Linked DNA regions of Homo sapiens: region 2 is linked to region 1. Evidence: fine-mapped QTL for protein levels in blood plasma. A gene starts in region 1. The other region holds a variant in brackets. All regions are shown on one strand. Distances are between the middles of the regions.

What was found. PIP is the chance, under the fine-mapping model, that this variant and not a neighbour inherited with it causes the effect. Protein levels are from antibody-based Olink assays in UK Biobank. Linkage for the fine-mapping came from a reference panel and not from the study's own genotypes, which makes the PIPs less certain.
Region 2: its variant is fine-mapped to the plasma level of the TMEM25 protein (UK Biobank, PIP above 0.99).

Annotation. Positions count from the first base shown.
Region 1 is chr11:118,528,990-118,534,387 of GRCh38, reverse strand. It overlaps TMEM25 (transmembrane protein 25), which reads right to left and starts at 3,196. Exons shown (of 9, transcript NM_032780.4): 1 at 3,154-3,196; 2 at 2,517-2,613; 3 at 1,927-2,238; 4 at 1,181-1,471; 5 at 837-968; 6 at 501-531; 7 at 259-359; 8 at 33-122. The coding sequence starts at 2,586. TTC36 (tetratricopeptide repeat domain 36) reads right to left here. Exons shown (of 3, transcript NM_001080441.4): 3 at 3,395-3,734. The coding sequence ends at 3,472. It overlaps TTC36-AS1 (TTC36 and KMT2A antisense RNA 1), which reads left to right and starts at 3,613. Exons shown (of 3, transcript NR_120574.1): 1 at 3,613-3,884. RefSeq lists silencers at 2,949-3,048, 3,079-3,518, 3,639-3,918, 4,440-4,734.
Region 2 is chr11:118,628,564-118,631,443 of GRCh38, reverse strand. It overlaps PHLDB1 (pleckstrin homology like domain family B member 1), which reads right to left. Exons shown (of 23, transcript NM_001144758.3): 6 at 2,794-2,880; 7 at 1-237. Among named protein-coding and RNA genes, the nearest start is that of MIR6716, 14 kb to the left of the region's middle. RefSeq lists enhancers at 1-108, 109-617. The variant G/A (reference allele first, on the strand shown) is at 438.

The DNA.
Region 1 (5,398 bases):
AGGAGGAGGGTGGCAGGCCCCTTCCCCAGTACCTTGGCTGGTGAGGAGGCCGCCGGGCTCCGGGTCCAGAAGCTCTGGCCGGCTGTTGTTCTGAGCCATCTGCCGGTCTGCTGGTTTCACTGCTGGTTGACAAAGAGGGCAGTGTTCAGGACGAGGAGTGTGCCTGATGAGGCCTCGCCCCTCCCAAGCACCAAGTTCTTTTTCTCAGAAGCACTTCTGGAGATTAAGCAGGGGCAAAGAGCAGGGCCCTAGATATACCTCTGGAATCTGGAGTGAGGTCATTGAGCTGAAGGTTGGACGGGAGGGACATGTTCTCCCGTGGCAGGCGCACGTTGTTGAGTTTTAGGTTGTTGGAGTCACTACAGGGAGGACAAAGTTCGGGATGGATATGAGTCCCGGCACAGGCACTCATGGCTGCCTCTACCAGAAACCCCAGGCTCCCTCCTGTCCCCATCCTGCATTTCGGTTAGGCTTGTCCACCCAGCCCAAGGAAGAGTTACCTTGATATCAGAGATGGGTGCCGGGAGGGGCCTGTGGAGAAAGAAACCATGTCCCTAATTCTCAGTGTGCCCTCCCACGCTGGGCTGTCCTACCCTTTCAGACCCAGGACCCTCAGGCAAGGGGTCTCTCAAATGCCCAGGCCTGGCCCTGGGGCCAGAGACTGGGTTCCCAGTGCTTGACCCTGCTACCTGGGATGCATGTCACCGTACCCATGGCCACCCCCTGGAAGTGCTCTGCCACCGTCAGAGATGACTGGTTCTGCCCAGCTGCACTTGCTGTCTTGGCTGCTGCTCAGCCTGACCTCATCCACACTGCCCCCAGTGTCCCTGGCCTACCTTTGGTTTTCTTCTCTTTTCTGCAGACCAGGCAGGCCACCAAGGTGCTGAACCCCACGAGGGTGCCCAGTGCAAGCCCAGCAGCCACAACAATGCCCAGCAGTGGCACTTCCACCCGGGTAGCCAGAAGCCCTGGAGGATGTCCTCTGTGTCAGGTCCCAAGTGGGTAGTGCCCCAGCCCCAACATGCCATAGGTACTACTCTGCCCTCCTTGCCCAGGGTGGCTGGGGACAGTTCATCCACAAGACCCAACCACAGGGCAACAAGTATTCCCATTTCTGTATGGGGACGGGACCCCTGAGCCCACCTGAAGCTTTGCAGGGCCGCTTGCTGGCCATGCTCACCTGGGGCTGGAAGCGACGCACTGGTGACACCCACGTCATTGGTGGCCACCACCGAGAGGTTGTGTGCCAGGCTGCGGAGCTGCAGCTGCACCGTGTGGTTGGTGAGCCAGGGGTAGTTCTGCGCATCCAGCACCAGGAAGTCAGAGGTGTTGACAGTCACTGGCCCATCCTGGTCGATCCAGGTGACATTGGCCGGCGGGTTGGCACGCACCAGGGCAAACAGGACAACCAGGAGGCCTGGGCCCTGAGCTTCCTGGTACTTGGCGCCGACTTGGGCAATCTCTGGCTTGACTGGTACAAAGCAGAGGCCAATATGCTCTCACCACAGCCCCTCATACTTCTAGCCCTTTCTTCCCAAACCCAGATGGGAGCCAGGGGCCTGGGCCTCTCCTCAGAGGGGATGCTGAGGAACAGGATGGCTGGGTCTGCCAGAGAGGCAGCATTTCGGAGTGATTATGAGTGTAAATACTAGAGCCAAATGCCCAGATGTGAATCCTGGCTCTGCTTCTTACCAGCGGGATCATCACCCTGGGCAGATTGCTTACCTCTTTCTGCCTCAGTTTTCTTATTTGTAAAATGGTGACGACAATAGTAATGACCTCATGGGGTTACTCAGAGGATCAAATGAGTTCATATTTGCAAAGTGCTTAAGTGTCTGCTAAATGTCCTGCGGACCACCTGCCTGGTGGGTGCTGGGGGTCCCTGGGCAAAGAACCTATCTCCCTGCCCACCTCAGGGCCACTCACATTGCACATTAAGGATGACAGAGGCGTTGGCTGATCGGCCACTTCTGGGGTCCTGCAGAGAGCAGTTGAGCTCATGCTGGGCCCGATGGGCAGTGACAGTGAAGGTGCTGGTGCCTCCAGAGAAGGCCTCCCCTCCCACGCTCAGCAGTCTTGAGGTGCTGGCCTCCTGCAGCTGTCCATCCAGATACCAGGCCAATCTGGGGGTGCCAGGCCCCCCTGCCACCCGGCAGGTGAAGGCGTGGCGTTCATTCTCCCGAAGTGCCCGCTCAGCCCAGGTCTGACCATCTATTTGTGGCTCCAACTCCCCCCAACCTGGAACACAGCAGGAGGCCTCTGGGAAGGGCTCAGGCACGGTTGGTACTGTGCTGTGACCAGGAATTGGCCCAGTGAGAAGAGCAGCAGGCCAAAGGAAAGGGCACCTGAGTCCTCTCACCAGGGACTGGCTGGTTGGACCTAGGGTAGGTGGGTGAAGGGGACAGGGACTCCAGGGCTTGGGGCCTGGAGTGGGTACCCAAACAGAAGTGCAGACAGGGGAGAGAGGGGGCTTTGGAACCCAGAAGGACTTGGTCAACGACTGAACAGGGGTGTACCTGAGCTCAGAAGGGCTGGCAGGAGCAGCAGTGTGTGCCGGAGGGCGGCTGGGCCTGGAGGCAGCGCCATGGTGGCCCGGGCCTAGGCCCTAGGCTGCTGAGAGAAGGGGGCGGGCCTGTCAGCCAGGTGACAGCAGGCAGGCCTAGCAATTGCTCCAGGAATTTACTCTCCAGAAACAAAAAGAACCATGTACGGAAACGCAAATGTAGACCAGCCCCCAGTGGCGAAGGCACGGACACGAACGGCAAAGCCCAAAGGCACAGACCCACCCAGCAGACACATGGACATCCTGCAGGCGCAGAAGCGAGCACTGACTCCAGGCTACAATACAAAGAGGCACACACCCGCAGATACGCAGAAGCAACGAGCATCCGTGCAACCACACCTTGCACACACGCACACTCACACACATACTCCACGCGCCCCTCCCCCAAAGGGATCGCCTTTCTCCTAATCCTATTCTCTCTCCTGCCCTGTTCCCATCCTCTCTCCTGCCCTGTTCTCTCTCCCATCCCTCGCCCTACGCCCCCTTTCCTGATGTTGGTGGCTCCGGTGGATGTCGGCGGAAGAGGAGAGGGTCGGAGGGTGGGGTCGCCGAGCATCCCGCCCCCGCCCCCCGCCACCGGGGCGGCTCACCTGGCTCCCTCCCCGAGCGCCGCCGGAGCAACTGCTCAGGTCTGATGAGCACCGCAGTCCGCTGCAGGGGCGGGGGCTGCGCCAGGCGGGGCCAATCGATGCCCGACCACGGGCCCGAGGGGCCCTTACCCGGCAGGTGGGCGGCCGCGGCTCACCACCCCCCGGCTGGTCCCCAGCCCGCGCCGAGTACCCCCGAGTGCCCTTCTCTCCGGGCGCGGGCAGGACGCAGGAGCAGGCGGAGTCGGTGAGGCCCGACGGCTTTATTGGTTCAGGGCCCAGTCCCGTCCCCTCGCCCGCGGACGCCCGGGTCCGCGGCGCTCAGCGGCTGTCACGGGGGCGGCGCAGCTGCCCCATCATGTCGGCCAGCATGCGGTTGCACAGCGCGGCGTAGGGGTTGAGCAGCACCAGCTGGCGCCGCGCGAAGGGGCTGCCCAGCCGTGCCGCCCTCTCGAAGTCCCTGCGGGCGTCGTCGTCTCGGCCCTGCAGCCGCGCCAGGAGTCCGCGCTGCACAAAGCTCTGGCGGGCGGCGCGGCCCCGGCCGCCGCTCAGCTCCACCGCGCGTTCCAGATCCTCCAGGGCGCCTGCGGGACCGACGAGACGGGCGGGGCGGGGGTCAGCGGAGGCCAGGGCGGCCTTGCCCGAGCCCCAGCCCACCTGCGGCCGCGCGGATCACCGTGGTTCTTGCGGCTCCCGGGCGTGGCCATTTACAACCCGCCTCGCACCTGCTAGAGGTACGGATCGTTATTCCCATTACACAGATGAAGACTGTGGAAGAGTTAAGCTCTACAGCCAAGCCACTTAGTGGCAGAGCTGGGACTGAAGTCCAGGTCTCGCCTTGTTCCTATTATTTTCCACCGCTAATACACGAAAACATGAACGTTGCAGGATTCTGAATGGCCACTATGTTTATGAGTCTGGCCCACTGCCCGGGCAAGTAGCAGCCAATTTATTCCACACCTGTTATTAAGCATCCACTATGTGCCAGGTGACTGACTCTGAATGTCAGGGTTCAAAAAATAATATTAACCGCACAATCATTTCTTACAAGTACAATCAAGACAGTTTCTCATTGTTTTCCTTTTGAGGGCCGTTTTCTCTTTTCCATTGCTTTCTTTAGAACACCTTCTCTCTCCCCTGTATCCTGGACTGATTGCCTTTCATCATTCTTTGGTTATCTCCATGTATCTAATTTCCTTGGTCCTGGAGCCAGAGCTGGCCTGCACCATTTTTATTGTTATTATTCTCATAAAATACTTGGGTTGGGCCTCAGAACTCTGAACTCAGAACTTCAGGCAGCCAGCCACCTTCTTAAAGTCCACCAGGCTGGCTTCTTTCGGGCTCTGCTTCAATTCACTCATGTTCTCTAGTCCCCCAAAGAGCCTGAGCCTCCGGAGAAGCGCTCAGAATGCAGTACTCCTTGGTTTCCCTCGGAGGAGCTGGTCTGGAGGAATCTCCAGTTGGAATCACCACTGCATCTCTCTGGGGTTTTGGTCTGCAGGCTGTCTCCAGTGATCTGGGGCAGATAAGCCTGGATAAGGGGCTCCTGGGAGGTTCCCATTGTTCCTGGAGTGGACTCAAAACTCCCTAGCCTGGCATTGCTGGTTCTGGGAGCACCTGTGTCACCACTGCTCCTAACAGTCAAGTAGTACTAGGTTTCCGTGGTTTATACCTTCACATTAGCCTCATCTTTGGTCCCCAGCATGGTCCCATTGTCTTCACTTAATTAGAATAACCTGAATGCAGCAGGAGTTTTGGACCTCTACAGACTGTACCTTCTCCACCCACCAACTAACTCCCACTCATCCTTCAAAACTCGCCCTTCAGGAACAGGTCCCACGCTGACCCCTCTCGAACTTGTTTTGCTGGTCTCAGAATTATGTGTCTGCCCTGCCTCCTGGACTGGGAGCTTTTCGAGGAGCAGTATCATGTGGGGATTAAGAGCACACACTCGAGCCCTACCACCTGGTTGACATCCCAGCTCTGCTGCTGCCTGACTGTATGATAGTGGGCAAGTTACTTAGCCTCTTCATGCTTCAGTTTCTTCATCTATAAACTGGGGATAACAATAGTACATACTTTTTAGGGTTGTTGTGAGGATTGATTTACTAGTTTGTATGTAAAGTGATTAATGCCTGGTACATAGTGACTGCTATATAAATGTTGGTGATCCATATACCTTTTATCTCAGTGTCCTCAGCACCAGCCTACTGCCACATAGTAGGCTCTCATTAACTGTTCCTTAATC
Region 2 (2,880 bases), 98 kb before region 1:
CTTGAGATTTTCCTCATCTGAGCGCTCCATACTCTCCCATAGGCGTTGGGTGGCAACGCCAGGCTCCTCGCTGCTCCGCCCAGAGGCCCCTGCAAGGCCTCGTGAGGGCCTCCGGCCTGCCAGTGCCAATGCTGCGGTGGCCTCCCCAATGCTGGGAAGCTCCCCAGCCTCAGGTCCCCCATCAGCCCGGCTGTATTCGGCACACAGGTTCAGGATGGTCTCCAGGCGCTGGCGTTCCTGGGGAGGATGGACAGAGCAGGACATGAAGGGGAGGAAGCTGAGCCCTGGTGGGGATAGAGCCAGGTTCAGTATCCTGTCAGGAGGGAGAGCAGGGTTACAGGGGGCTAGGACATCAGTGTCAAGTCAGGAGAGGCCTGACCCCAAGACCTAGGGGAGGCAGAGGGAAACAAGGTGCCCCAGAAGTGGGCAGGAAGAAC[G/A]AGGCTGTTGTGCCACATGCCCACATGGCATAACAGCCTGGTTCTTCCTGCCCACTTCTGGGACAGCCCCTTCCATCTTCCTGTTCCTTTCTTTTTTCAGTCTACCCCAGGACACACAGGAACACACCAAATGGACCCACAGTAACACACTAAACACATACAGAAACACACTGTTAAGCAGACTACAGACCACAATGAGACACAGATAAACTCAGTTGCTCGTCCTGACGCAGGTACACACAGATCTACAGACACAAGGACACATACTGACACACCAGCACTGATGCACAGGCACACAAGGATACAACATGTGCCCTGGCCCTGCATTAATAGGCAAGTACAGAGACACCAGCCCTGACATGCACAAATGCACACTGATGCACACTCACAGATAAACACAGTCTAGCATACAGACAGGTGGGCATGTATGCAGACAGACAGTGCTGGAAAACAGACCCATGAGCCCACAGGGACCAGACACCCAACCACAGACATACATGGAGAAGAGGTAGACCAAGGACACGGCCCTCTTTGTCCCCACCTCAGCTCCAAGTTACCCTCAGGCAGCCCTTGGCTGTTTATCAGCAGGATGGGCTGCTGCCAGTCCTTGAATGCCCAGGCCCATGAGTGAGTACTCCCATGGCCCTACCACTTCATCCACCCCTCTCCACATACACACCCACCCAGATACAGTCACCTCTCAGGGGCCTAGGAGGTAAAGGAGGGATGACACAATCACATTCCTGGTCTTTGTTGCCTTTTCCCGCAGGCCTACCTATAGGCCTGAAGCCTGGTTTGTGAGGCTTCCATGGCTCTCTAGGGTCCCTAGACCTCCTCAAGTGTCTCTCATCACTTACAGTTTGGCCATGAACCCAAACCGCAGGAAGTGGAGAGAAGGCTGGAGAGGTGTTCTCATACACTTACCCAGCTTCCCTCCTGTTGCTTGCCCAGTTCCATGGCAAAAAAAAAAAAAAAAAACCGGAACAGAGCCTCGGCACCTGGGAGGCTGGGCCAGTGCCTCCACCCCTGCCCCAGGACCCAGATAAGCAGCCTGGTTGAGGTGGGAGGGGCAGGGCGGGCAGCCTCCAAGACTTAAAGTGGCAGGTGAGGCAGGTCAGGACTAGTGGTAAGATGTGTGCTTATGTGTGGGAATGGGGGTGGGAAAACTGATGGAGGAGTTGGGGGAGGCTGTGCCTGCCACTCTGCCTGTGCCAGGCTCACTGCCCCCTCTCCAGGATGAGACCCCAGCTTAGAATGGCCATGCATTCCCGTCTAGACCAATGCAAAAACAGTGAAGAGAAGATGCAGCAAAGGAAAAGATGGGATCCGCCTCATCTCACCCCCATCCAACACAAACACACAATCCTATACCCTCATCCAAAACTGTCCCAACCTCTTCCAAAAGCATCTCCAGATGCTTCAGTTCTGGTTCTCATCAGTTCTGGTTCTCTTCCTCAAACCAATCCCAGGGTTCCTGCCCACCTTCCAAAGAACCCTGTTCTGCTCGTAAGGGACAGAGGGCAGAATCCATTCTTCTGTACATGGGCTCGACTGTGTACACACCAGCCAGAGCCCCTTAAGCTCCCTGAGCTATCTGGGGAATCCTGGCCCCCACCCAGCTCAGATGCCATCTCCAGGACAGCTGCCTAGAGCCACACCCAGCCCCTGCATGCACCCACGTGCATGCACATGGACACACACAGTCACAATTACACAGGCTGGCTAACGGTCAGGCCAGGGTTGCCTATCCTGCTCTGTCCCTCTACCCTGCCACCTGCACTCCTAGATGATACTGCCTGGGCCAGGATGAGCAGCTCCCACCCACTTGTAGAGGCCAAAGACAAGCAAAAAAGAAGGACAAGGTACTTTTCTAAAGAACAAGTCTCAGAAAGAGTCAGACAGGGGACCTGGGTTCCAATTCTAGCTCTGCCAGAACTTGCTGTGTGACCTTGGACAAAGCCATTCCCCTCTCTGAGCTTCAGCCTACTCATGATCACCAACTGCTTCTCAAACTGGGAGGTTCGAGGTCTTACCATACCTGTGGTATGTTTTCCTAGAGCTTCACTGTGCTCAGGTAAACAATGTGAAATTTAATTTAACATTAAAACAAATGCTATGTTGAATAAATGCAAAATTAGCAAGAATTTAAAATAAAGTCTTAGAGATTTCAAAGGAATTTCTTCTTCACGGCACCAGAACCATAAGATATTGATCACTAAAGTGTATCCTGGAGGTGGGGAACCTTGAGAAGCCGAAGCCCTGTTTGAGGGCCTCTCCTGCTCTGCCAGCTGGCCTGCTCGAGCCCTGGCAGAGACTCTGCCATGGACAGTGGCAAGCCTCCCTGGCACCCGCTCACCAGCCTCTCCATCTCCTGCTCCCGGAGCCGCTCTTGGCGCTGTCGCCGGTGGTACTCCAGGAGGTCGTCCTCATTGTCACTGATCTC